Linked DNA regions of Homo sapiens: region 2 is linked to region 1. The links come from fine-mapping of genetic effects on gene expression. A gene starts in region 1. The other region holds a variant in brackets. All regions are shown on one strand. Distances are from middle to middle. Region 1 holds the start of NAA20 (N-alpha-acetyltransferase 20, NatB catalytic subunit). Region 2 holds the start of CRNKL1 (crooked neck pre-mRNA splicing factor 1).

The links. PIP is the estimated chance that this variant, and not a neighbour inherited with it, causes the effect.
Region 2: its variant is fine-mapped to the expression of NAA20 in whole blood (TOPMed, PIP 0.90).

Annotation. Positions count from the first base shown.
Region 1 is chr20:20,008,292-20,025,587 of GRCh38, reverse strand. NAA20 (N-alpha-acetyltransferase 20, NatB catalytic subunit) reads right to left here and starts at 8,226. Exons shown (of 6, transcript NM_016100.5): 1 at 8,139-8,226; 2 at 3,108-3,132. The coding sequence starts at 8,191. RefSeq lists enhancers at 5,764-6,963, 7,425-7,925, 8,540-8,719 and silencers at 7,980-8,099, 8,150-8,219.
Region 2 is chr20:20,042,831-20,055,529 of GRCh38, reverse strand. It overlaps CRNKL1 (crooked neck pre-mRNA splicing factor 1), which reads left to right and starts at 3,064. Exons shown (of 14, transcript NM_001278628.2): 1 at 3,064-3,238; 2 at 4,908-5,060; 3 at 6,099-6,190; 4 at 7,029-7,187; 5 at 7,599-7,765; 6 at 10,044-10,222; 7 at 11,868-12,038. The coding sequence starts at 3,188. It overlaps CFAP61 (cilia and flagella associated protein 61), which reads right to left and starts at 2,998. Exons shown (of 27, transcript NM_015585.4): 1 at 2,939-2,998. RefSeq lists a silencer at 2,590-2,639 and enhancers at 2,730-3,029, 3,040-3,209. The variant G/A (reference allele first, on the strand shown) is at 5,176.

The DNA.
Region 1 (17,296 bases):
ATACTGTTACTTTATCCCCAGCTCTGTATGAGTCCTATAATCATACATACCATTACATGAAATATTTAGGTTATCACTGATTTTTAACAAAATTGCCTGGACATATAGCCTCAAGTGTGGAATGGTGATAGCACTGTCTAATAGAAAGCAGAGAATCAGGACCCCAAAGTTCTACAGTCTACTTCCCTACTGACCATACCATATCTAAGTCTCTCCATTTATCACCTGATATTGTTTGTTTGCGGTCTGCCTCCTCTTAGTCTATGAATATCATGTTCCCTCTGTCCCTGGTGCCTGGTACACAGTAGATGCTTAATACACTGATGCTTACATAATTGCACTGAAAAATTAATGGGTAGTTCCTACTTTGACTTCAGCTATGAGACTGTGAAAATAACTTTACAACCTAAGTCCTTCCAGAGCCAACTTAATTACCCAGTTTTTCCTCTCCACTGATTCAAATCCTGCATTTCTAGTAATGCAGATAAAAGCTGACTTAAGGAATCAACTATGTTAACAGTAAATGCCTGAATAATTTGCTCATGACTTCACTCTTCAACCTTGGGATATCCTTACTGACATGTAATCATTCCTACATTTCTCTTCTTCTTTTTACTCTGTACTTTAATGGATGAAAATATATTTCTTGTTAGTATAAACTTTCTGATGCAATTTATCAGAGGACACCATCAATCACACATAAATATATTTTTTAAGTTCCTGGAAAACCTGTTCCGTGCGAAATTCTTCAAAATCTCCTCTGAAGGACCATCATTATTTTGAATACCCCTCAAATACAACCCTTAACATGGCAGGACAGCCAGTCTTCCTGCCAGCCAGCCACTGACATATACCACAACCATCTCTTCTGTGGCTAACAGAGGAGTCCCAGACACCCCTCCCTCCCATCGACCTCTAGGACCTAACAGGTTACTTTCAAATATAGGCTCACCTGGATTATGGGACTTTCACTGCAAATTTTAAATGTCACTGGAAGCACACCATATAAACGGATTTGCATCCTAAAATCCTTCCTTCCTATATAGTGAAACTTTTGTCATTCAAAATTCTTCAAAAATCTTAAAAGTGGTGATATCATTAGTCGTAATTTAAAAAATCCAGATGAACCTGCAGAGATTTTTTGCTTTTCCCATTCAGTTTTGTTTCTGATATGTAGTCCTGTTGCTGCCTGCACCTGTAAGTTAATTTTTACTGCTGTATAGTATTTCTTTATGTGAAGAGACACCTTAAATAGCCTGTATCCTGACAATGGACACCTGGGTCATTTCCTGTTTCTCAAAAAAATGTTTGAAATCCTTCTTCAGTACAGCTTAATTTACTTAACCATCTCCTGATTGTTGTGTGTGAATCTTATTCCAAATGCTTAGTAACTCTCCTGCAATAAATAATGTTTGTAATGGTATAACTCAGGGGTTAGCAAACTTTTTCTGTAAAAGGCCAAATAGTTAACATCCTAGGCTTTGTGGGCCATACAGTCCCTGCTGAACTACTCAAACTGCAAAAGCCACAGAAAAAAATATAAATTAATCAGCGTGGTGTCCCAATAACATTTTATTTACAAAAACAGGCAGTGGGCCAGATTTGGCCTATGGGCCTTATTTTGTCAACCACTGACAAACTGCCTCTATTTCTTCTTATTTTCAGCTTTCAGGAAATGGAATTACTATTTCCAAAGTGCCTTCTGGAAAGATAATAGCAATTTATATTGTCACTAGCAATTTATGAGAATGTTCCTCTCACCTCACCATCATCAGCACTGAGGTTTATCATTTTTTAAAATCTTGGCTGATACATAAAATATGGCATCTCATTTTGGTTTTAGTTTACATGTCTTTTGACTGATGAGACTGAACTCTTAACACGTTCATTAAGCTCCTATATGCCCTCTTTTGATAAATTACCGGTTAGCAGAACCCTCCTACCCACCTACAGTAGATACAGAGCATAACACAGAATCCGAACTTTGTGTTGTAAGCCACTAGAGATGTGGGGTTATCTGTTACAGCAGCATAACCACAGTATCCTATCTTCACATCTTTGCCCCATTTTTCCATTAGGACAATAATAGACACTGTTCATTGTTACCTCAAAGCCTTCACTTTAGTAACAAGTCCCAATTTATAAAGCAGGGCACATTTCTGGACTCTAGATAGGATTCAGTAGACAGGTGAAGCATGAAACAGGTGCTGGTCAATGAGACAGAGCGGGCCTGTGTGGCATTTCCCAAAGGTACTCTCCTTTTTTTTTTTTTTTTGAGACGGAGTCTCGCTCTACATGTAGCCCAGGCTGGAGTGCAGTGGCGCGATCTCGGCTCACTGCAACCTCGGCTCACTGCAACCTCTGCCTCCCGGGTCCTGGTTCAAGCGATTCTCCTGCCTCAGCCTCCTAAGTAGCTGGGATTACGGAGTGAGCCACCACGGCTGGCTAGTTCTTGTATTTTTACTAGAGACGGACGGGGTTTCACCATGTTGGCCAGGCTGGTCTTGAACGCCTGACCTCGTGATCTGCCTGCCTTGGCCCCCCAAAGTGCTGGGAGTACAGGCCCAAAGGTACTCTTAAAAGGGAAGAACACCCTCACCTCCCCCTCTGCTGTTTCTGCTGCCGGAAACATGGCTGTGATGCTGTTTGCTGTGGCAACATCTGGAACAAGGTTACGGCCACCCTGGGAGGGGTAGAGTGCTTAAACTGCAAAGAGCCTGGCTGTTGGTGTCTTCATGGAAGCATCACCTGCCTGGGACTGCTTATCTCCAGACTTTGTTCACACTGGAGACTATGCAGCCACCTTGCTGAAGTCACTGTGCTTTCTGGTGAATACAGCCATGCTGACTCCTGAGGGGCAAGGTTGGCAGGGGAGCTATGATGTTACAGATTTCTACCAAGTCATGATATTAACAGTTTGTCAGCAGATCTAAGACAACTCTTGTTCTCAGTTTCACTTTTTAAAATTGCTTTCAGTGTTGCTTATGATGTTTCCTGACCTACAAGTTTTTAAACTTTTCAGTACTCCTCTGTTTTCCTTTCATTTCTGTTTTCTTTATTCTCAGTAAATCTTCATTCAACTTTTTTTTTTTTGTAAAAAAGGATACAGTTTCTGTAAGTGGATCCAAGTTACTGAAAGAAACAAGAGAAATGTCTCTAGTAAGCAGCGTTTACAATAACCAGTTGAAATAAGCCTGCTAAAGCTAACAGTAATATGCCACAAGGAAAACAAAACATGTTTCATCAACAACTTTAAGGCCAACTTTAGGGCTGAGGCAGATGATTTAATCTACCTAATAGCCATAATAAGCTGTCACAGCCACTATTAAGGTGTTTACATATTTTTTCACTTAACTGCTACTTGCTTCTTTAAAATTCAAGTTAATAAATCTACATCTTGTGTTTTCTAAGTGGCAATAAATTGCTAATGGAACTGGAGACCAACTAGGGATGTATCTCGCAGAGACAGAAGGTCAAACTCGCCCGCTGCAGCATCCAACCCCATGGATCCTCCCCGCCTGTGTCTGGGTCTTCCCTGACAATTGCTCCTTTATTCCACCCTCTAAATGTGGTCACTCCCACCACTCGGTTTTTGCTCCCCACTCCTATTCTACACTCCCACCTCCCTGTCCCCACCATCCCCATTCCTATGTGTTCAATCACGTGTTCTTAGTGGATGCCTCCCAACCTGGCTCCGATGCTGTGGGCAGCTCACCAGCACATCCCAGCACACCATTCCCAAATCTGCATTCTGAAAACCCATCTCCATCCCCTCACTTCCCTAGTCAATTAATGGAGCCACTATTTTGTCAGGTTCAAAACCAGCTACTTTTCAACTGTTCTCTTCTGATTTCTAGTCAAATTCTCCTTTGAGACCCATAACAATGCTAGTCATATCATATTTCTGTAGTCCAGCAGTTCTTAAACTGTTTGGTTTCAGAACTCCTTTACGCTAAAAAGTTACTGAAGACTCCAAAGAACTTTTGTTTATACGCGTAATATCTACTGAGATTTAAAAATTTTAAATATTCACTCAAAAATAATAAATCAATTACACGTTAACACAAATACCTTTACCAAAAAAATCACTATACTTCCGAAAACAAAACAAAACAAAATCCAGTGACAACAATGGCATTGTTTTAACAATTCTGCAACGTCCTGCTTAAAAGACAACGGGATTCTCAAGCATTTGTTATGCTTGCTGCTGAAAGATCACACCTTGGGAAGCTCCACTGTCTACTTGTGAGGGAATGACAGTGGAAAAGATGAAAAACCTTCTTAATACATCATGAAGATAGCTCTAACCTCACACAACACCTGAAACAATCTTGGGGACCCCAAACCCTGGCCCACTCCTTGAGAATCACTGCTCTAATACAGTGCAGGGAGTCACTCCACCACACCTTTCGACGACTGAACTGCTTTATCTCCTCTTGTCTGCCCACCCGCACCCTCACCTCCAGCCCCGCCATCTCAGGGGCTTCCTATTTCATCACTAAGAAGAGAAAACAGGAAGAAGTCTTTGCCAAAGTCCCCCCCCCCCCCCGCCCACCGAACCCACGCACACAGGCATCTGCACCCATATGCTACTTGCTCTCCTGTCAATAGGCACGGAGTGCGGGCGAGAGACCCCCTCAGTACTCGGGACCCTCCTCCTGCAATTCTCTTTCCCTCCTGCATCTGCATCTTCAATTTCTCTTTCCTGGAAGAAATGTACAAATATGATGTGCACTGAGCCATCAGCTCCTCTTGAACAGCTTCCCACTCCTGGGACAGCCTGAAATGCTGTCTTCACTCAGCTTCTGAGACCATGGGGTTCTCCTCTCACCTCACTGAGCCACACGGTCTCCTTTACTTGAACACTTGATGCCCTAAGGCGCCATCTTACAAACTCTTAGCCTTTTTTTCTACACTTGTGCTGACCCCCAAATTTCCATCTTTAGCTCAGACCTAATCTTGAGACGCCCATGCCCAGATGCCTTCCTGGCCCCTCCACCTGGGTTTCTTGGTGCACTTGGCAGAGAAGTTCAGGTCTTATGATGGCCTCTCCAGGCCCTGCCCTTCTAACTCTCTGCTGTTATCCCCTTACCCTCCCATGCTCACTCTGTACCAGCCATGCGGCCTGCCTCCTATTTGAAACAGGGGTGTCTTCACTTACTGTTCCCTCTATCTGGAAGCTCCCCTGGCCCCCAGTGTTCATGTAACTCATTCCTAACTTCCCCAGGTCTTTCTTCAAGGGCAGTCTCCCTGAACCCCCAAACTAAAGCTGAATCCCCACTCACTTCCAGCTTTCCTTCCCTGCTTCTATTTTCCTTTGTAACTGAACACTAAGTTCCACATGACTCCCCGCACTGTGATTCCCAAGGTGTGGGCCAGGATTTGAGGGGGTCCCCAAAATTGTTTCAGGTGTTCTATGAAGTCACAGCTACTTTATGATACATTAAGGTGTTTAGAGGGGAAAATCTACATTCTATAAAGACACCTTTTTGTTTATGTCTTGTTCACTGCTGTGTCTCTAGAACTGGCACACAGTAGGCACTCAAATATTTTTCCAAGAATAAAATATGTGTTAAATTAATTGCAGTGTTCTACATCCATGGATTATTTCAATTCCAACTGCATCATCTAATCTGAGTCATTCTCAGAGTTTTCTACCAAAATGCCCTAATCAAAGAGGCAAGTAAATACAAAAAAATGGGAACCAGGTGTGGTGGCTCACACTTGTAATTCCAGCACTTTGGAAGGATTAGGTGGGAGAATCACTTGAGCCTGGGAGTTCCAGACCAGCCCGGGTAACAAAACAAGACCCTGTCTCCACAAAAAAATTTAAAAATTAGTGGGGTGTGGCAGCACGTGCCTGTAGTCCCAACTACTCGGGAGGCTGAGGCAGGAGGATTGCCTGGGCCTGGGAGCTTGAGACTAAAGCGACCTAGGATTGTGCCACTGCACTCCTGTCTGGGCAACAGAGCGAGACCCTGTCTCAAAAAATAAAAGAAAATGGGGAATAAGTGGAGTTCCCCTACTGGCACCTTCTGAAGAGGCCACATGATTCTCTGAAATCTAATATTTTCTTGCAAGTGTTCCTGTGTATTTTCTTTCTATTCATTTCCATGTAAAACTGTTGTCCTTTCCTAGATCTTCAGTTAAAACTGATTCTCCATGAGGCTCTGCCTTTTCTTGAAGCTTCAAGGCACCCTGTCACCTCCCATGCTGCACCTCCCAAACTGAAGCCTCTGTCAAGTCATCGTCTCTGGGCCACTGCCAAGGCCTCCTGAATGGCTTACCTGCCCAGTTTACCTGCTGTCATCACATGACAGCCCACAGAGCTCAGTGGTTAAGAATTTGAATCCATCACCTGGATTCTACAGTGAACACTTTGCTACACTGGCTTCATCATTTCTCTCTGCCCACCTATCAATCCTAGATCCACTTTTAAAAACAACAGGGCAGTAAGTGAAAACGAAAAACCAAGTGGTTCCGATTCAAGGGTCAGGAGGATAGAAAGGACTATGGGATGAGATGGCTGGGAACACTTTAAAGAGAGGGTGAGCCTCTCCAGAGGCTCCAGGTGGGTTAAGACCCACTCCAGAGCAGTGGATCGCAAACGGAATGTGCGTTTCTAACATGGTCCCCTGACCACAGGCACCAAGTCTTTCAGAACCACTGCTCCAGAGCCAATATCCTTGGATGAAGTTCCTCGCTTTACTCATTCTCACCTGGGCCAATTCACTTGTGCTTGCCATGCCTTGGTTTACTCATACACAAAATGGGGGTGACAGCACCTCAAAGAATCGTGAGGATTAACTGGATTATTACGTGGGCACTCAGAACAATGCAGGGAACAGTGAGTTCAACACAAGTCACCGTAGCTACCAGACTGGCCCAACAGAAAATTCTTTCCACAGGATCAAGTCTAAACCCCTCCTGTTTCACCCATTTCTTCCTGACTGCTCAGTGGCAGAAACCAGCCACTAGATTCGCACTGATCCCAGTTGTCTGACCGCACTTCAAGTTTCCCCATTTTCATGCCCCGCTCCTTCTCCGGAACTTCCGTCTTCCTCACTTACCAATGTGTTATCCATCTTCAAGGCTCACCCCCTCTTTGAAATGTTCCCAGCCATCTTATCCCATAGTTCTTTCCATCTTCCTGACACTTGAATCGGAACCACTTTGTCCTTAGTTTTCACATACCGCCCTGTTGTTTTTTTAAAGTGGATCCAGGACTGATAGATGGGAAGGAAGGAGAGATACCAGCGTAGCAAAATGTTAACTGCAGAATCCAGGAAAAGTGTCTATAAAAGCACATGGTGAAATTCCTCCAACTTTTCTAAATGTGTGGGAATCTTCATAATAAAATGTTTTCTTAAAAAAAAAAAATTGGTACCTGCAAATCAGAGGTCTGGCCTTAACTCGAATCCAAAGAAACTGCATCCAGGGCTCTGGGCACAGCGAGCCTCCCCTAAGATCTGCCGTGACTCCTCACAGAGGAAAGGTGTGTACACCGGGGTGCGCAGCTACAGTAACTAAACTTGCAAACACTAACCATGACTGAGACAGCATCTGCTGCAGGGGACGCAGTGATCAGTGTCATTTCATTTGGATACAATTTAACCACGGCCACCAGGTGGGCTTCACGATGTACACATCCCAACAGCTGCTGACCAGCTTCCGATCCTCGCAAGCCCCCTCTGCGGCCTGGCCGTCGGCGGTGCCCTCTGCCCAGAAGAGGCGCGGCCCGGCCACGAACCAGCAAGCAGTAGGGCAGGGCGAGAAGCCCAGGTCGTGGGCTCCAGGCCGCGTCTCCAGCTCGCCCCATCACCCCAGCGCCTCCTGACAGCGACCACGAGCGGAGGCCCGAGCGCTGCCCCAGAACCTGCCAGCTCGCAGGGTCCAGAGACAAAGTTTGAGCACCTCGGCCAAGGTCGCCAAGGCCGGCGTGCGTCGACTCCAGGCCCACCTCTCCCTGGACCCTGTGGCCCCAGGGAGGCGCCCACGTTGGCCGGCGGGGGGTGGTTCTCGCGGGTCCCCGTCCGGGCTTGGGGTCCGGCCGGGAAGGCGCGGCTGGGGCCGGAGCTGGCGGGGCCGGGAAGCGAGGCCCGGCCAAGAGCGGCTGGCCCTAGGCGCGTGTCACTCACATGTTGTTGAAGCGGAACAGGTCGTCGCAGGTAAAGGCCCGTAGCGTGGTCATCGCGCCGCCGCCGCTTCCGAAGACCGTTCGCCAAGACCCCGCGCCCGCCCTGCCGGAAGTCTCCCGGAGCGTGGCCGCCGCGGAACCGAGCGAGACGGGGTACTGCTTCCGGGCTACGAGTTGCTGGGCAACGACAGCAGCAAAGCAGCTTCCTCTGGCGGCCGGCGGCGGGAATTGCCAGGTCGCTCCTGTAAGGCCTCCGGGGCTGTGGCTGCCCAGAACCTCGGAACCCCTCCCAGGCAGCGGCTGCAGAAAGCAGGCGGCGACACCTGGGAAGGAAAGAAGCTGCTGGTGATGCGGAAACCCAAGCAGAAGAGCGGAGTTCGCAGCCACCCGGTGCTGCAGAGTAAATGAGGAATGGGAGAATTTATGACCCAGAATCCCTTGTCCCAGTGTTGCGAGTTGCAGATGTCATCTTAAAATGTCAATACCACGTTTAAAAACAAAAAGAAGGCCGGGCGCGGTGGCTCACGCCTGTAATCCCAACACTGGGAGGCCAAGGCGGGCAGATCACTTGAGTTCAGCAGTTCGAGACCAACCTGGCCAACATGGCGAAACCCCCTCTCTACTAAAAAAAAAAAAAAAAGGAAAGAAATAAAAATTAGCTGGGCGTGGTGGCACGCGCCTCTAATCCCAGCTACTTGGAGGCTGAGGCAGGAGAATCGCTTGAACCCAGGAGGCGGAGGTTGCAGTGAGCCGAGATCTCGCCACTGCACTCCAGCCTGGGCGACAGAGCTAGACTTGGTCTCAAAAATAAATAATAAATAAATAAAAGCAAAACGAAATGTAAAATTGATTTTGATAGTACGCTTTATTTTACCCATTTATTTTTCCTATTTGGGAAAAATATTTTTCCCTGACCCCACTTTATTATACCCGAAATATCATTTCAACATGTAACCAATCAATACTCAACATGTAATCAATCAATAAAAAAAGGAATGTGATATGTTACATTCTTTTTTGCAAAGACTTTGAAATCCGGTGTGTATTTTACATTTGCAGTGCATTTCAATCTGAGAGAGCAGCTGTCATCGGAAATGCTTGTTCTCTATTTAGATTTCATCAATGTATGGTTAAAAAGCAGATTCTCATATCCAAGCGGTTCCAAATATACTGTTTTCAAATCGCTGAACCAAACATCAGTTTTTAAATTTAAAGTAGTTAAAATTAAAAGTTAAAAATTCCTTTATTCAGACCAGACACAGTGGCTCACACCTGTAATCCCAGCTACTTGGGAGGCTGAGGTGGGAGGATCATTTGAGCCCGGGAGGTAGAGGTTGCTCTGAGACATGATTGCACCACTGCACTCCAGCCTGGGTGACACACCAAGACCCTGTCTCAAAAAGATAAGATAAAGAGAGATAAAATACATAAAGCAAGCAGGAATGCTGAAATGTATTTACACATGAGTGTTAAACTGGTCAATATCCACAGAGCTGTAATCACTGTCTCTCCTGGGCACTGTATAACACTATGCATTTGTATTTTATGGACAAGAAAAATTTTCATTACTATCAATTTTCCTCAGCTTACAAATTTGTAAAATTTTGTATTGTCAAAGACAATAAAAAGCAGAGAAAACCTGGAAACGTGTACTAAACAGTAATCTTTTTCTGGCCATTTCAAAGTGTTTCATAATTTTTTGTGTGTGACATGAACTAATGTTGATTTGAATTTTGTTCCTTATGAAGTAGTGAAGGTTTTTATAATATTTTTGGCTCTGATTCATTGGTATTATAAACATTAGAAGTTTATAGCTACTTTATGTTTGTATCTAGGTAATGGTGGAATAAACATGATTTTGATTTTTAGAAAAAAACACTGTGGGTTTAACACAAAGGTAGCATTGGAACCCTGCAGAAACTGGATGCTGTAGGCCAGCAGTTTGCAAGCACCGATACGAATTATTATTCCGATTTTGAGGCACAGATCAGAAATATCCTATAGCTACGTGGCCATTCCAACACATGGGGTCAGGGGAACGTGCAGGGCAGTACAGAGAATATCCTGGATATTCACCAGCTGGTTCTCCCTTCTCTCCTGTTTGTCTACTTATTTTTAAACTGTTATCAGTTTCCATTGCTGATTGCCTCCTATGAATTAGCATCTCGAAGGGTGGCCAGTAAGTGCCTAGCAAATATTGATTAAATAGCTGAGTGAAAAAGTGGCACACAGGTTACCCAGAAGATAATGTCATCCTTGGTAGTTTACAAAGAGGGTATTCACATTCTCAACAAAGGTATTTCACCTCTCTTTGCCTCAGTTTCTGTAAAAGGTGCATAATCATAGCACCTACTTCATTGGATTATTATGAAGATTACATGAGTTAATATTTGTAAAGCAGTTATAACAGTGCTTGCCACATTTTAAGTGCCATATAAGTGTTTGTTAAGAAAAATAATGAAATTAAGTATCTTGCATTTTGAAGGATCAGAATCTGGAGATGTAGAGTTAGGAGAGGCACAGCCCTCAATCATAGACCTTAGCACAAATGGCTCTGGAGGGGTGATGTTTGCTCATAGTCCCCGATGAGCAGCTTAGAGGAGATGGGTGGGGCTTTGGAAGCCGCCTCCCTTTCCTCTTATTGTCTTGCTTCAACCAGAAAAGTCTACATGTTGACACACTTGTTTTATGGGTTTTAAAAATACCTTTTAGGGCTATTTACATTCTTAAAGACTTTTTAATAAAAAGGATATATGCACATTATTAAGAAATCAAAGACTTGTGGAAATGTACAAAGAATAAAGCAACAAATCATTGAAAATTTTGCCACCTGGGAATAAACCATGTTAACTCTCAGATAATTTCAGTCATCTCTCTATGTAGATTAAGGGGAGTGAGAAAGAGACTTTTACTTAAAAGGGATTCTAATTATATATGTTAATAGATTATGAAGTATAAGGTATTACTGTACTTGACTTTTTTCTTGAATTTAACAGAAGAAAAACAAATCAAATGAAAATGAAAGAGTGCCAGGCGCGGTGAGTCACGCCTGTAATCCCAGCACTTTGGGAGGCCGAGGCAGGTGGTTCACCTGAGTTCAGGAGTTTGAGACCAGCCTGGCCAACACGGTGAAACCCCATCTCTACTAAAAATACAAAAATTAGCCGGGCGTGGTGGTGGGCACCTGTAATCTCAGCTACTCGGAAGGCTGAGGCAGAAGAATCGCTTGAACCCAGGAGGCAGAGGTTGCAGTTTGCTGAGATTGCACCACTGCACTCCAGCCTGGGCGACAGAGGGAGACTCCATGTCAATAAATAAATAAATAAATAAATAGGCTGGGCGCGGTGGCTCACACCTGTAATCCCAATGCTTTGGGAGGCCGAGGCGGGTGGATCATAAGGTCAGGAGTTTGAGACCAGCCTGGCCAACATGGTGAAATCCCATCTCTACTAAAAATACAAAAAAAATTTAGCCAGGCATGGTGGCGGGCGCCTGTAATCCCAGCTACTTGTCAGGCTGAGGCAGGAGAATCGCTTGAACCCGGGAGGCAGAGGTTGCAGTGAGCCGAGACTGTACCACTGCACTCTAGCCTGGGTGACAGAGCAAGACTCTGTCTCAAAAAATTAAAAAATAATACAAAGAATAAATAAATAAATAAATATGAAAATAAAGAGATTGCTGAGCAGCACAAAATAAAAGCTCCTAAAAGTTTCCTGTAAAGTTTAAGATATGTATAGTATTATCTTATATATGTATTAAATGTAATTTCAATCTCCTAATGAGGATAATTAATGGTCAAAATCAGATTTTTTAATAGAAATTTCAATTTAGGGCACTATTTACTCTTTTTTTGTGTTGTTTTGTTTTTTGTTTTTTTGCTTTTTTGAGACAGGGTCTCGCTCTGTCTCCCAGGCTGGAGCGCTGGCAAGATCTCAGCTCAGTGGAACCTCTGCCTCCTGGGTTCAAGGGATTCTCCTGCCTCCGCCTCCTGAGTAGCTGGAACTATAGGTGTGCACCACCACACGAGGCCTTTTTTTTTTTTTGAGACAGAGTCTTGCTCTGTCGCCCAGGCTGGAGTGCAGTGGTGTGATCCCAGCTCACTGCAACCTCCGCCTCCTGAGTTCAAGCGATTCTCTGCCTCAGCCTCCTTAGTAGCTGGGATTACAGGTGCCCGCCACTATGCCTGGCTACTTTTTTTGCATTTTTAGTAGAGACGGGGTTTCACCATCTTGGCCAAGCTGGTCTTGAACTCCTGACCTTGTGATCCACCAGCCTTGGCCTCCCGGAGTGCTGGGATTACAGGCGTGAGCCACCGTGACTGGTCTTTTTCTTTCTTTCTTTTTCTTTCTTTCTTTTTTTTTTTTTTTTTGAGAGAGGGTCTCTCTCTGTTGCCCAGGCTGTAGTGAAGTGGCACCATCTCAGCTCACTGCAACCTCCACCTCCCAAGTTCAAGCGATTCTCGTGCCTCAGCTCCTGAGTAGCTGGGACTATAGGCGTGTGCCACCATTCTCTATAAAGCCACATCAGTTTTTCAACTATATATCACCTAGTTGTTTGGTTTTAAGTCTATGATTGAGTGGATGTAATTGTCATTCCTGTTTCTTCTTACAGCTTTTCCCTTTCCATTCTTCATTCTGATGCATGTATGGGTTGGCTGGGTTTCTCTGCTGAGCTTTTGTTTGTTTGACTTTGCTGTGCTTTGTTTTTCCTCGGGCTCATGGTGCTGGTGCTCTATTCACAGAGCGCCCTTGTCTCTTAGGATGCTCAAGTGGAATATTGGCTGGATATTCCTGGATCCCATGTTCTCTCCTCCAAGATTTTGTAAACATCATTACTCCATTGTTTTCTGGTGTTTAAAGTTTCTGGGGGAGAAGAATAAGGCCAGCATGAGTTTTTTTCCCCCTTGTATCAGCGACTTAATTTATGCTGGAGTCTAATTATAACATTTCTAGAAATATAATTATAACACTTTCAGAAATAAAACATTTTTAACAGTGCATGTGTTTTAAACCTAGTGAATCTGACAATTTCAGCAGTTTAACACTGAAATGTACTAAAAACTTCAAAACAGAATCACTCATACATAGCTGATGGGAATATAAAATGGTGCAGCCCCTCTGGAAAACAGTTTGGTAGTTTCTTTACAAATTGAACATGCAAACATGCAACTATCACTTAACCCAGCAATTGCATTCCTGGGCATTTACCCCAGGGAAACGAAAAGTTACGTTTTTATCAAAACATCTGTATGAATATTTAAGCCGGAATCAAAAGTCTGTGTACCCTGTGATTCCATTTACATGGACATTCTTTTTTTTTTTTTTTTTTTTTTTTTGAGACAGGGTCTCACTCTGTTGCCCAGGCTGGAGTGAAGTGGCACCATCTCGGCTCACTGCAACCTCCACCTCCCAGGTTCAAGCGATTCTCCTGCCTCAGCCTCCCGAGTAGCTGGGGCTATAGGTGTGTACCACCACACCTGGCTAATTTTTATATTTTTAGTAGAGATGGGGTTTTGACATATTGCCTAGGCTGGTCTCAAACTCCTGGCCTCAGGTGATCCATCCACCTCAGTCTTCCAAAATGCTGGGATTACAGGCATGAGTGAATGTGCCCAGCCATTTATATGACATTCTGAAAGGGCAGAATTATAGGAACAGAAGAAAACAGACCAATGTTTGCCCAGGCTGGGACTGATCATGGTGGTGGCTACATGACCAAATGAGTCTGTCAAAATACATCAAATGTGTACTAATATGAGTCAATTTTACTTTATCAAACTTATACCTTAATAAATCTGACTTTAAACAGAAGAATCACCAGCACTTTGGGAGGCTATGGTGGGAGGACTGCTTGAGGAGTTGGAGACCAGCCTGGGCAACAAAGCGAGACCCCATCTTTACAAAAAAACAAAAACAAAAAAAAAAAAAAAAAAAAGGAAGAAGAAGAAGAAGGAGAAGGAGAAGGAAAAGAAGAAGAAATAGCCAGGCATGGTGGTATGTGTCTGTAGTCCCAGCTACTTAGGAGGGTAAGGCCAGGGGGATCCCTTGAACCCAGGAGTTTGAGGCTCCAGTGAGCCATGATTGCACCACTGCACTCCAGCATGGTGTTTTTAAAAAAGAAAGGAAGGGAAGGGAAGAGAGGGGAGGGGAGAAAGGGAGAAGGAAAGCTGAGATTGTGCCACTGCACTCTAGCCTGGGCAACACAGTGAGACACCGTCTCAAAAAAAGAAAAAAGAAAAGAAAAAGGAAAAGAAACCAATAAGCAGCAGTATCAGCATATTTTTAGAAGTATGGAGATAAATAATGGTGGGAGGGGAGGGGAGGGGACAGAAGGAAGGAAGGAAGGAAAGAAGGAAGGATCAGCATAGTCTTTCCATTTTTGTCACCATCATTTTAAGAAGTATATTTGAAAAGCATGAACTACGTTAAACCCCACAGTTACTTGGGCTTCTAGGACATGCTGTTATTGACTTCTGTTTCAGTGCATTTGATTTTATTTTTAGCCGGCAGTAAAACACTGTTTCTATCCCGGCTGCACATTTTCCCCTACATTAAAGATGACTCATAGAACTCTTTATTTATCATTCTACACAGAGTAATTTCTTTTACTGCTTAGTTGGAAAAAACTACAAGCTTTTACCACATTTAATGGCAAACATTTTCCTGCTCATTGAAACAAAACACCATGTGCTCTCTGTAAACAGTGCTGACCCAGATTCACATCCATCATTGCAAAATTCCACATTGAAAACAAGCAAACAGCTTGATGGTTCATCTGTTGTTGCTCTGTTTCTTTTCTTTCAGATTATATGGAAAGGACAAAGTGCACAGTAAATATATATTTTGATATATCCTAGGCAGCATACTTTACAATTAAACAGCTTGGATGTTTGGATGACTTCATATAAGAAATTTTTTATATAAAATAATAACTGGATAAGATAGATGCATTGACTCTGGCCTATCATTGTAATAATCTATTTTCAGTTTTGCTAACTAGGATGTATAAGTTCATTCACCATTCAAATGTAAAACTACAGGTTTCTTTCTTTATTATTTTATTATTTATTTTTTTTCTTATTAAAACTACAGGTTTCAATTAAACAAGGCAGGCTGCATTACCTATCTTTCCCCTACCAATACCTCACTAAAATGAGAATTAAAGAAAATTTAAAAAGGAATTTTTAAAAGGGCATACATCCATAGGAACAAAAAGAATGGAAGAGGAGACAGCAGCCAATGGGAACTGGTAACAAAATTTTGCGGGCTTGAAAACTCAGCAGACAGGAGAAAGCTAGATGTTAACCAATGTCAGGCGGAAAAGCCAGCAGGAAGCAAGGCAATCGATTCCCTATGCAGCGTCTGAGCGGGCTCAGGAATGAGCTCTGGCAGGTGTGAGTGAAGGGAGAAGATGAGCGCCTCACTCCTGGAGAGACCCAGAAGCCATGTCCCTGAGCCGTCAGAGCACAGGCAGCGAAAAGTGACGTTGAGACACTGCATTGGAAATGGGAGGAGGTGAAAGCTGGCAGACGGAAAGCTGAAAACCCACAGGCTCCTTGCCTGCTTAGCTCCTAGAACGCTGGCAACAAAATTTAACCCCACTTTGCACCCGGCGCCCGTAGGATACTGGAGAATTTTCTTGTGGGGAAACCACCTGACCCAGGAGAAAAGCCCCACAGGCATTGACATATGACCAGGCTGCTACATGGTCACCCTAAGGAGAGGACCACCATACAAGAAGGTTCAATCCTCACCTTCCATGATATGGAATCAATTATTAATGTCTAATATTGAAAAAGAGGCCGGGCATGGTAGCTCACGCCTGTAATCCCAGCACTTTGGGAGGCAGAGGTGGGTGAATTACTTCAGGTCAGGAGTTCAAGACTAGCCTGGCCAACATGGTGAAACCCCTTCTCTACTAAAAATATAAAAATTAGCCGGGTGTGGTGGCACATGCCTGTAATCCCAGCTACTCAGGAGGCTGAGGCAGGAGAATTGCTTGAACCTGGGAGGTGGTTTGCAGTTAGCTGAGATCGTGCCGCTGCACTCCAGCCTGGGGGACAGAGTGAGACTCTGTCTCCAAAAAAAAAAAAAAGAAAGAAAGAAAAGAAAAAGAAACCAATAAGCAGCAGTATCAGCATCTTTTTAGAAGTATGGAGATAAATAATGAATACACAGCTGGAGACGTAGTTTAGGGGAGGAGATAACAGAAATGGGATTGGGAGGAGGCTCAGGGGCTGCTGCCTTCCATTGCAAGTCTTCCAATATTTGATTTTGAAAACCATGTATTGTGTTTATTCTTTTAAAATCCTCCTTCCCCTTGAAAAACATAAGGCAAAATCATGTGAGTAAACCAGTGTCATCTGGAAAAACAAATGAGGGCTCAGGATTGTCCACAATGGTTACCTGGAGAAATGAAAGAGTTCTGCGAAATTCACCATACTTTCCCTTTGAAATTGTCTGCTGGGGATTCCACAGGAGCTTTTTCCAGCGATGTTTTAAATCATCCACTCCTTGCTCACCGAAGAGGTTTTATTAAACACATCTTTGTTTTTCGAAGTTGGTGAGTAAAAGGGTCTTATGATTAGTAGATTCTCAGGGAATGAAATGCCTTTAAAAGGAAGTTGGCTGTTCTTCTTCTTCTTTTTTTTGAGACAGAGTTTCACTCTTGTTGCCCAGGCTGGAGTGCAACGACACAGTCTCGGCTCATCACAACCTTCCCTTCCTGGGTTCAAGCCATTCTCCTGCCTCAGCCTCCTGAGTAGCTGGGATTACAGGCGTGCGCCACCACACCTGGCTAATTTTGTATTTCTAGTAGAGATGGGGTTTCTCCATGTTGGTCAGGCTGGTCTCAAACTCCCGACCTCAGGTGATCTGCCCACCTCGGCCTCCCAAAGTGCTGGGATTACAGGCGTGAGCCACTGTGGCCGGACCAGCTGTTCTTTAAGAAAATAAAAAAGCTTATAAACTTCCCATGTCACATGCAGACAATGTGACTAATTGTGCAGACTACATGACGACATCCGTGCGTGCACACACATGCATGTGCAAGCAGCTGGCCCGGACAGAGAGATCCCCCTCCGCTGCTCCTGTTTGCCCTCATACAGATGTTGGAGGTGAGAGAAGCCACTCTCCAGCAAACTCAGCAAAATCATTAAGT
Region 2 (12,699 bases), 32 kb before region 1:
GACACAGGTTTTGGGGATAGAATGGACCTCACTCCAAACAGAGAATTAAAAATTAAACCATGCATCTACCTGGGACTTTGGATGGGCCCCTCGGTAAGTGAGGGGGCTAGAAAAATTAAACTCACCAGCCCAAGAAAGTGACAAGCTTTCTCTACACAAAGCTCTAGGTAGAAAATAAAGCAAAAATACTGCTGAGAAGTCCAAATTCTAGACTAAAGTGGGTATGGCATTCTAGTCCACACAATCTGTGTATTATGGGAGTCACCAAGAACTTTAGATGATAGACTCTGAAACAGACTACAAACTAAGTATGTTTATAATAAAGAAATATAGAAAGAGAAACAAAAGTCATGAGAAGAGAACAGGTCATTATTTAAAAAAGAACAGAAACTTAAAAAATGAAATACGTGGTTATTAAAATTTAAACTAAGAGGATGGGTTAAAAACAGAAGAATAAAGAAAATAAACTGGAAGATACTTATGAACAAATTATCTAGAAAGAAGCACATAGAAACAGAAAATACAGAATTCAGTAAAGACACATGTAAGACAGAATGAAAAACATCTGTCTTATGGGAATTCCAAAAGGAATAAATGAAACATTTGAAAATAATGGCTAATTACTTTTAGCATGGATGAAAGACATGAACCTTCAGTTCAGAGCAAAAAATACAAATAAACTCCAAATATATAGTAAAACTACAAAACCCTAAAGACAAACAGAAAACTTTAAAGGAACCTGACAAAAGACAGACTGTCTATAAAAAATAATTAGACTGACAGAATATTTCTCATGAGCAACATTAGAAGCCAGTAGCACGGGGGTTAGCAAACTTCTGTAAAAGGCCAGAGAATAAATACATTAAGCTTTATGAGCCACATGTTGTCTACACAACTAGTCAACTCTGCCATTGTAGCACAGTAACAACCAGAGACAATATCGGCACAAATGAGCATGAATGTATTCCCACAAAATTTTACTTACATACACTGAAAGTTGACTTATGTATAATTTTCATGTGCCATGTAATTTTTAAAAAATGTTTAAAATGTAAACTACATATAAAGTTTAATGTAAAATGTGTGTGTGTATATGTGTATGTATGTGTGTGTGTATATATATATATATATATCCCTAGCTCATTCACAGTCCATACAAAATAGTCAATGGGCTGAATTTAGTCTACGGCCCATAGTTTTCTAACTACTAGAATAGTGTTTTAAAAATATAAAAGGAAAAAATAACCATTAACCTAGACTGATAAACCTAAACAATCACTTTAAAATGAAGATAAAATAAAGACAATTTCATACAAAGACTGAAAGAATTCAAAGAATCTTGTAGAAAGAACTAGGAGATGGTATATTCTGAGAAGAATAAAATCAGAAAGAAGTGGAATACAAGATTAAATGCTGGGAAATAAGAAGGTAAACATGAAGGTATATCTACAAAAGCATTGATGGCAAAAAGTAAGAAGGATAATACATTTTTCCTAAAAAAAAAAAAAAAAAAAAACAAACAAAAAAAACACACACAGAGATGAACTGAATTGCCAGACAACAGAAATGTAAGAGAGAAGGATGGTGATCAGAAGCAAAGTATTCTAGCATGTTTGTACTTTTGAGCAAAGGCAACAGATGATTAAACCAATGATTCATTTGGTAAATCAATTGTTTACAGTAACACATTTAAGGAAAATCACTTCAAAGAAACATCTTTTTAATATTTATTTATTTTGTTAGGTGGCTTTATGAAAGTGATATAAAATCTTCTCTATTTAAATTTTGAAAAGTGAGATAAAATATCTAAATAATATGGTTAATAAAGAGTTATGGCAAATACATTGATGTTGGTTATAACTGACTGCAGTTCTAGAAATCTGCATAAATCTTTTGTTGAAAGTAATATCTGCATTGGTAGACGTGATATTACTACATACATAAATATATATTTTCCCCAAACACCAAAAGAGCTTTGCAACTGTGGAAATTATCCTAACAAATGAGCTGCCAAGTCATGTCATTATACATTTGTCCAACCTCATAGAATGTACACCAAGAGTGAACCCTAATATAAACTATGAACTTTGGGTGATAATGATGTGTCAATGTAGGTTCAAGATTGTAACAAATGTACTGCTCTGGTGGAGGATATTTTTAAGAGTTGGAGGCTGTTAGAGGAGGGAAGAGGTACAATAATTGATAGCAGGAAGCTGTGGAGGGAGGAAATCTCTGTGTCTTCCACTTAATTTTGTTGTGAACCTAAAACTTCTCTAAAAATGTCTATTAAAAAAAATTCTCTTAACCTTTGCTTTTCAGTTTTTGAGGGCAGGTTAAGTATTATAACAGCTAACATCTACTGAGCATTTGTCTTTAATCCTAGTGAAACAGATGTTATTAGCCTTGTTTTATAGTTGAGGACATTGAGGCTAAGAAAATTTAACTAGAGTAATTAAGGCACACACAGAATTTAAACATGTTTCTTATCACAAGACTGAGTTGTTTTCCAGTTACTCTATTTATATTTTTTCCTAATATCTGGCTTCAAAGTACCTTCTGTTATTTTTAATTCCAAGCCTTAGAGTTAATTATTTGGGCACCTTAGAATTATTTGGGCACAACTGTCCCGAAACCAGAAACGAGGGGGCGTGGACCCAGAGACTACTAGAATGCAATGCTCGAGGCATTGCAGCCTAAAAGGGCGGCAGCTCGCCCCGTCGCATGCTGGGAATGGTAGTTTCCTCGCTCTCCCTTCTTCCCCCGCCCTCGAGCATCCAGATTGGAGCTCCGTTCTTACTCCCTTGCAGGGCGCCACGGCTCGACAGAGCCACTCGTCCTCGCCTGGTCATCCCAGTTCCGGAGGCTGACCTGGGGATGCGCCCTGGACGCCCTGCACCGCAGTCCTTGCGTCGCTGCTAGTCAGCACGGCGTTACCCACCTCATCCGCAGCTCCAGGACGCCGCACTCCACGCGCTGCCGCAAGGAGGACGCGCAGCCTGGTCACCATGGAAACGGTGCCGCCTCCGTCACGGCTCAAGCGAGAGGTCAAAGGTCAGTCCTGCAAGTTCCGCTTCCGGTTCCGAGATCCTGTTTGTTTTCTGAAAGCTTTGTGGTTTCGGTGAGCTCTCAGAGCCGATTTCTAGCGTCCGTGCCGGGGACAGGTGTCCAGAGGTCGACTGCTGCAGACATGGCGGCCTCCACCGCGGCCGGGAAGCAGCGGATTCCCAAAGTGGCCAAGGTAGGCGATCGCGAGGGGCCTTGTAGGAGGTGGCCTAGGAAAGGGGCATCCCTCAGCCCTGAGGGTGCCCGGGTTGGGAGAGAGTGTTCCCGCCGGGGAGAAGGCTCACCCTGAGAGATGGAGAGGAAGGGCAGCTGGTGGTGGGGCGCGGGCTCTTGTCATCGCGGAGCACGACCCGCGTTGGCGTGGCCTTCGTTCTGGGGTGGTTTTGCTGGGGAGTGGAGTGGGGTGGTTCGGTGAAGATTTACTGAGCCAGGCACTGCACTGGGCGCTGGGAAGCTACGCTCGTACGCTGGCCACAAGCAGTACTCAAAACACGAGTTTCTGTATAAAGACGACCTTGCTAGATGTTACCGAGAGGCAAAGTAGAATATGCCATGGGCGTGAATAAGGGGGTCGTATGAAGGGGTCCTGAAAGTAAATTTTGCTGAGGAAATGACCTTTAAGCTGAGACTTGAAGGCTGAATAGGAGTTAGCCCAGCTGACAGCGGAGGGCGAGAGTAGACGGTAGGAGTAGTATAGTATCATAAGTTAATTAAACAGTAGACTTACTATCTGGTATTTCCTTTGATAGCTAATACTTACCAAGTGCTTAATATGTGGCAGACTTTGAAGCCTTTACAGATACCCTCCCTCCAGTCTTTCTTGAGCCCGGATGACTCTCTTGAACTGGACCTTTACATAACTATTTGTCTGACTCGCAGGAGTAATGCATATAGAGCAAGTAACACTGTGTCTGGCACTTAGTGCTTATTAAATATGAGCTATCACCATTATCATCATTACTCCACATGTGGCATTAAGTAACATTTTTTATAATTCAGCTACATAAACTTTTATTGGGCATCACTGGTCCAATGGAAATATAATGCACACCACATATGAAATTTTAAATTTTCTCATATCTACATTAAAAAGTAAAAACAAAGCAAAAAAGTGAAATTAATTTTGATAATATATATTTTATTTGAGCTAATGTATCCAAAATATTATCATTTCAACATGTAATCGGTATAAAAAATGTAATGAGGTAGTTTATTCTTTTTTATACTTCATCTTCAAAACCAATGTGTATTTTACACTTACAGTCCACCTCAATTTGTACTCACCACATGTGACTCATAGCTACTGTGTTGGACAGCACAGCTCTAAGCTACGTTAGACTGTAAGCTTCTAAGACCTCAAGAAGCTTACAGTCTAATGATGAGAACTTACTGAAATTGCCTTTGACTTGAAGTGCCATGTAAAACCAAACCCAGTTATACACCGGGGCATTAAATAAGTTGAAGAATTCTGTAAATGCAGGTTGTAATGCTGTTAATAAGATGTGCTACACATTTTGATAAAACAAAACCTCTGGTCAGAATTTTACCTAGACGGCCTCAAAGTTTATTATTATACTCATCTAAAAGGGAAAACTTGCTATTATTTTTGCCACCTTTTTCTCTTGAGACTTTTACCTATGGCTTTGCAGTAGATACTATGAATAAGAGAGAAAACGGTATTTTTTTTTTCTTTTCAGTCTCATGGAGGAATGGGAACATGTCATACAAAAAGGGCATCTTGTGATAATACTAACAAAGTTCATATCCTAAAAAATGTATGTTTGTTTCTTAAGCCTTGTGTGAAGAGCAACTACTAAAAATAGAAATGTCTTCTTTCTTAAAAGGTGAAAAACAAAGCCCCGGCTGAGGTACAGATAACTGCTGAACAACTCTTAAGAGAGGCTAAAGAAAGAGAACTTGAGCTTCTTCCACCTCCACCTCAACAGAAGATCACAGATGAAGAAGAATTAAATGATTATAAACTAAGGAAAAGGAAGGTCAGTCAGTGTGGTATCTTTCAGTCCACTAATTGTTAAGACTGTATCGGTCAGTTTGAAAAGCTCCTCATTGGTTGGATTCTGTAGGGCAAGATGAGGTTAAGTGTTTCCAGAC[G/A]CATGAATAATGTACTTCTGGTTACCAGATAACAGCATTTTTCTGAACTATATAAAATATGCCATGAGTTGTCTGGTTAAAGTGTAAAGAAATTGAATCTGCATAATTTTTGATGCTGAATCAAAGTGAGCGGAAGTTTAGCAGATGGAACAACTGACAACAAGAAGGAGGGTATGCTTAGTAAGGCTGCACTGTGTACTTCTGTCTATACCACCTTCTGTGTTAAGAATTGAGATCTGGCTGGGCACAGTGGCTCGCGCCTGTAATCCCAACACTTTGGGAGGCCGAGGCGGGCAGATCACCTGAGGTCAGGAGTTTGAGACCAGCCTAGCCAACATGGTGAAACCCCATCTCTACTAAAATACAAAAATTAGCCAGGCGTGGTGGCAGGTGCCTGTAATCCCAGCTATTCGGGAGGCTGAGACATGAGAATCACAGCAACTCGGGAGGCAGAGGCTGCAGTGAGCCGAGATCGTGCCACTGCACTCCAGCCTGGGCGACAGAGCAAGACTTTGTCTCAAAAAAAAAAAAAGAAAGAAAGAAAGAAAGGAAAAGGAATTGAGGTCTGCAAAAGGACCATGAGAAGACTTTGGGATCTGATTTGACCTCTTCACTCTAGAATGTGGGACTGTTTTAAAGCACTAATGCTGTTATATATGAAATTCTGAGAATTACCAGAGGACTTAAAGGTAATAGTCAAAAACATTTTTTATTAGGGACAAGCATAGACCATTTTAAAGTATCAGTTAGTTGACTGTAACCTTCTGTAGTGGGTTTCTTATTCCTCAAGGATTCCAGGATGTAATTTCTCTTAAATATGAACAAAATGAATAACCATTTTAGTACAAGACTTAAAATAGACCAAGGGTGCTGTCATTTTTAGTCATTTGTCTTTTGACTTGACCCTTTTTGCCTTCTTCCAGACTTTTGAAGATAATATAAGAAAAAACAGGACTGTGATTAGTAACTGGATAAAATACGCACAATGGGAAGAAAGCCTAAAGGAGATTCAAAGGTAAAATTACTGAGAGTGTAGTTTTGTATATAATGATTCATAGATTAACAGATACCAAAAAGAAAAGAAGAAAAAGTTAAAGCACAGGTAAAAGATTGTGCCTCGGGTAGAAATTTTCAACTTTGGTTCCATGGAACCCTAGGGTTCCCTTGAGGGCCTCAGGAGTACTGGGGTAGAATAGTCCTGGGGAGGGTGGCAGAAGAGGCTTTAGAGATAGATCTTGTCAGTTGTAGCTAAAGAAGCACAATTTCATTTGCTTTGTATATATTGAGATTTTTACAAATTTCAGCTAAACAATGGCCAAAAAAAATAAAACCAATGGCCAAAAAAAATAAAAATTGCAATCTGGCCCTTCCTGTGGTCTAGCTTTCTGCATTCTCCCCGCATACCTCCTTCCCCCACTGTGCCTGTGTATGTGCCACTCCCTGAATATATCATGTCTCCTTATCGTGAGGCTTGACTGTTCTCCTTGCCTGGAATGAGCACCCCCTCCTCACCAAACTTAGTTTCCTGGTAAATCGGAACGTTCCTCAAGTTCTCATTTCTACAATTACCTACTACTTAGCCTTTTCCACCAAACATTTTCATTTCTTCCTCTCTGTTTCCCGTGCAGATCTTGACTATAACATAAATCACATTGCATTATAATTGCATGCATGTCTTTTTATAAGACTTTGTAAGGTACTTGAGAGCATTATATCTTTTCATTTTTTTATGCCCAGAACTTGGCTCATGGTAGACACCTAATAAAACATCAGTGCATTCCAGATAGTTTGAAATAACTGCTACATGTGTTGAATGCTCTATTTTTGATGCCCTGCAAATCTTGCTTCTTAAGGGCTCGATCCATATACGAGCGTGCTTTAGATGTAGACTACCGAAATATTACACTCTGGCTGAAATACGCAGAAATGGAAATGAAGAATCGCCAAGTCAACCATGCTCGAAATATCTGGGACCGGGCCATAACAACGCTGCCTCGAGTTAATCAGTTCTGGTAAGTTTCTGATCTAACAAAACAGCCTTTTATAGACTAGCAAAGTTCCACATCTTCTGTATTTATTTTATTTACATGATGATAGTTTAATTTGATATCCTACTTTTTCTTCAGACATAAATGCTGTTATGTCCCATAGTCTATTAAGTCATAATCGTAATGTTCTATAGCTATGTAATCAAAACTAAAATTTTGATTGCAATCTTTTATTCATAAGCTTCTTGTTGAACTAGGCAACTTTTAAGAAAAAAAAATCTTTTTTTCCAATGGTTCATCCTTTTTCAGATTTACATACAAATGACAAAACATGTTTGATTTAACCTTTAAGAAAGGTAAAATCTTCAATCTTCTTCCCATTCAACAATGGAAGAACTAAACCACAGCAGATATTTTCGGGTGATTTTGTTACAGGTACAAGTACACGTACATGGAGGAAATGTTGGGAAACGTTGCCGGTGCCCGGCAGGTGTTTGAGCGCTGGATGGAGTGGCAGCCTGAGGAGCAAGCCTGGCACTCCTACATCAACTTTGAGCTGAGATACAAAGAGGTGGATCGGGCCCGCACCATTTATGAGCGATATATCCTTTGGACGAGATCTGTATGGTGCCATGATTGTCCTGGATGCTGCTGCTGCTCCTGTAGAGATGTCTCATGATCAGGACACACAGTCATTAATGTCAGGCTCAAAGTCAAGAATGCCAGTTTATCAGCTTCCCTATGTTTTGTAGGGAAAGAGATTGGTCAGAATGAAAATTTGTATTCTGGGTAACTAGTCTTTTCTAGTGAGAGTTTGGGTTTATTTTATTGTAATGCTAAAAGCTAATGTTTCCTTGTGGAAAATGATATTCCTGGGGGATTGTTTCCAGGAACTCAAGGGGATACCAAAATCGGTGATGCTTAAGTCCCTCATATAAAATGATGTAGTATTTGCATGTAACCTATGCATAGCCTCCCATATAATTCAAATAATCTCTAGATTACTTATACCTAATGCAATGTAAATGTTATATAAATAATTGTTATTCTGTATATTTTAAGGAATAATAAGCAAAAAAACGACATGTTCAATACAGAAGCACTTTTTTCTCACGAATACTTTATCTCAGGTTGGTTGAATCCACAGATATGGAACCCATGGCTGGAGGACTAACTGTACTAAGGTCCTGGCTGCCATTGCCAGTCCTGTTTTTCTAAGGTTTGTGTTGGTCATTACTACCTTACTGGAGTTCATCCAAGGTTTACTGTTTACTAGCTGTGTGGCTCCAGAGAGTCATTTAACTCCTTTGAGAGTTGGTGTCCTCTTCTTAAAAACAAGAATAAAAACACCTTTGTTGGGCTGTTGCGAAGATTAAATGATACACATGAAAGCACTTTTAGAAACTGAAGTACAGTCATTCCTCACTATTTGCAGATTCCATGTTTGCAAAATCACGTATTTGCTAAAATTTATTTGTAACCCCCAAAATCAGTAATTGTGGCACTTTCACAGTCATTTGTGGACATGCACAGAGCATGAAGTCCAACAAGGTGAGGCTTGCCTTCTGGTCTTAACCTCATATAACCATGCCTAGAGCTTGGAGACAGGAAGGGCCAGTGCCATGTAGTGCAAGGAGCTGTGGCTCTGGGGCCAGTCGGGGAGTTTGAATCCCTGTCAGTGGGGCAGCCTCAGTCCAGTCACTTAACATTTCTGAACCACTTTTCTTACAAAATAATGAAGATAGAATCTGCCAGGATGAGTTCTTTTTAGGATTTAAGATGATGATGAATGTGAGATTGTATATATACACGTTTCTCCTAGGAGCAGTGGTTCAGTACTCAATAATTAAGTGTTCGCATTGACTAAATAGAACATAACTACCAGAAATAATGAGAGTCAACTTTATTATGCAGTATTAAGATCTTTTTATTTTTTTACTCTTCTCTGTTGAGGTGACAATGTTAAGATCTTAATTATGTCTACTAATTTTAATATTATTAGTTTGACGAAAGCTTTTATAGCACTTGCTACGTGCCAGGCAGTATTCTAAGTACTTTACAGATATTGTTGTTTAATCCTCATAACATCCTTGCAGTGTAGGAACTTCTCTGTCCTACAGATGAGGGAGCTGAGGCATGAGAGATTAAGTAGCTTGACTGGGTTCTCACAGGTGCTGATGGAAATAGAATGTGAACCTAGTAGAGCAGCTTCAGAACTGATGCTCTTCTTTGCCATATTGGAATATATTACTACTTTGGAAATTAATGATTTATTCAAGGAAGATAGATTAAAATGACAATTCAAAACTTTCTGCTTTGACTCTAGTTAACAGTTTTCTTTTTATAGCATGTTTTTTTCTTAATTATTAGTTCAAGTATTCATATTTTAATATAATTGGTGCTATTTAATGACCAGACCATTATTGACCGCTTACGGTGCCATGTTCTTTTGGCTAGAAACTGTGCTAAGGGCTTTACATACATTTTCTCATTTAAAGCTGGCAGTAATCCAGTGAGGCTGGCATTATTTTTCCCTGTTTACAAATGAAACAGCTGAGACTTAGACGTCTAAGTTCAGTGACTTATCCAAGATCACATGGTTGGTAACCTGGGTTGAGATTTTTCTTTGCTTCCAACTCGAGTTTATACCCACCACTAAAATCTTAACTAAGCACTGGAGGAAAATAGAGATGAACAGGCGTGGCCCTGCTCTCACAGAAGCCACTGTTTAATTCTACACTTTTGTATGTGTTTTGTTCCCCTAGAGTTGTAGTTTGAATTTTTGGAGTTTCCAGGCTTTGGTATGGTTTTGGTGTTTACTTACTTACTATTTTTTTAAGCCATGCTGTTTTGCCTGGGATTTCCTTAATTCCCTTGCACTTGTCCTCGTGCACCCTGATGTTAAGAACTGGATCAAGTATGCCCGCTTTGAAGAAAAACATGCTTATTTTGCCCATGCACGGAAAGTGTATGAGAGAGCTGTGGAATTCTTTGGAGATGAACATATGGATGAGCACCTTTATGTTGCCTTTGCCAAGTTTGAAGAAAATCAGAAAGAGGTAAGTATACCTAACTTCATTATACTGTAAAACAGCTTAGCAAAGATTACATTTTGTGCATGGTGAGTTCATTTCCATTTTTTCTTACTGACATATCCCTGGAAAGATGTTTTCAAAATACAAAAACACAGCTTCTCACAGAGAACAGCATATATATGTGACTAAGCTACAGATGGGAGCTGATTATAGATTGTATTATAACTGTCTTAATTTTATTGTGCTTTGTTTGAAAATTAAGCCTTTTAGTCTGAATGCCCGTAAACTGAGAACTAGTCTTTTGGCATCCTAAGTAAAGGACTTAACCGATAATAAATATGGGAAACAAAAAGCTTAAAGCCCTAGAACAGAAAACATTTAGAATGGAAACAGAGATTGCCCTACAAATAAGAGAGTTCTTTTTTTCCCTTGTACCTATGAAAATAGCTCAAATATTGAGAAGATGAGGCAGAAGGATCACTTGAGGCCAGGAGTTTGAGACCAGCCTGGGCAACATAGTGAGACCCTGTCTCTAAAAAAAAAAATTGAGTGGGCATAGTGGTGCACACCTACAGTCCCAGCTACTTGGGAAGCTGAGGCAGGAGTATCACTTGAGCCTAGGAGTTTGAGACTACAATGAGCTATGTTCGTGCCATTGCACTCTAGCCTGGGTGACAGAGCAGGACCCCATTTCTTAAAAAAAAAGGGAGTTCAAATAATACAGAATTGAGATCCATCCAAATACAGGTTTGAGCATTCCCAGTCTGAAAATCCAAAACTCAAAATGTGAAACTTGTTGAGTGCTGACATGACACTCGAAGGAAATGTTCATTGGAACATTTCAGACTTCGGGTTTTTGGATTAGGGATGCTGAACCAGTAAGTATAATGCAAATATTCCCAAACTGGGGAAACATCCCAAATCCAAAACACTTCTGATACCAAATGCTTCAGACAAGAGATACTCAACCTATATAAGGTCTTGCACGGACCATGCTAGGGAGTTCAGATTCTGTTCGGGCCAGTGGGAAGCATTGAAAGGTTTTAAGCGGGACAGTGATTGGATATGATTTATATTTTAAGGAGAGCCTCTGGCTAATTCATGGAGAATGTATGAGGGTAGATGGCAAAAGTGGAACCAGGGGAGACCAGTGGGGAGACTTTTGAAGTGGGCCAGGTGAACAGTGGAGTTTGATGGCTGGGGGCTGGGGAGAAGCAAATGGCTGTGTGGAAGAGATTGAAATGGTAGGGCATGTTGCAAGAGTGAATATGGAGTATGAGGAAAAAAGAGGAATTGAGGATCACCTGAAGGTTTTGGCTTGAGCAAGTGACTGTAGGTTAGGCCTTGCCTACTAAAATTGGGAAGATGGGGAGAGTCCCAGTTTGAGTGGGGAGGAAACAGAAGCTCAGTTTTGGACCTGTTTGAGATGTGCAGTAGACATCCAGTTGGCAGTGTTAGGTAGACAGTATTAAATATGGAGCTCAAAGCAGAGTACCGGTCCATCCTGACAGAGATAACCTTCAACAAGAGGGAGAAAAGCATCTTACTCTGGATATTATGAGGCCTCAAAATCTAACTTATAAGTAATATTTTGTTATATTTACTCTCCTAGTTGTGACTGGCATGAGAATATTGTGTTATAGAAGGTAATCATCCTGTCTGCATTTAGTTTGAAAGGGTACGAGTGATTTACAAGTATGCCCTGGACAGAATTTCAAAACAAGATGCCCAAGAACTCTTTAAAAATTATACCATCTTTGAGAAGAAGTTTGGTGATAGGCGGGGTATTGAAGATATCATTGTGAGCAAACGGAGATTCCAGTACGAAGAAGAAGTGAAGGTGAGCACTGGTGTGGATGGTCAACTCTGCAGATAACCCAAGATGTGCTCATCAATACTAGCAACACTAAAATGAATAATAGCAAGTAGCACTACTAGTGATTACTCTCGTGATGATGTGCCCGTGATCCAATTGGCAGCTATTTCAGACAAGTAGGAATAAACAAGGCTGATAGAAAAGGCAAGCAAACAACACTTGGATTTGCTCTGCCACTTACATGTTGTAAGTCGTTTTGTTGATTGTTGACTGTATGTAGAACTGGAGCAAAAGAAATGTGGAATCCATTCGAGCTCATTGTTGGAAGAAGGTGGAAGAGTCAGAGATTGGTCCAAAAACCTGTTTTGCACATCACCTTTGAGCTTAACTGCCTGAACAAAAGATGTATGCTAGACAGGGTTCCATCGGCATCTCTTTTTCTGTAATGTACTATTTTGATTTCAATTCAAAGAGAGTGTCATTTTCCTTCAGTATTCTGTTGTGTATTTAAAAATACTCTTCCTTAGTCAAGTTAATTAAGATACCTCCAAGCAAAGGACTAAGTCTGTTATTAAATGTGGTGGTAGGTTAGCAAGATATGTTAAAGATGAATTGCTATTAATTGGAAAGGCAAGTTTAACAATTGTGAGCATGATACGATTCTGTTGTTACAGACATAATGATA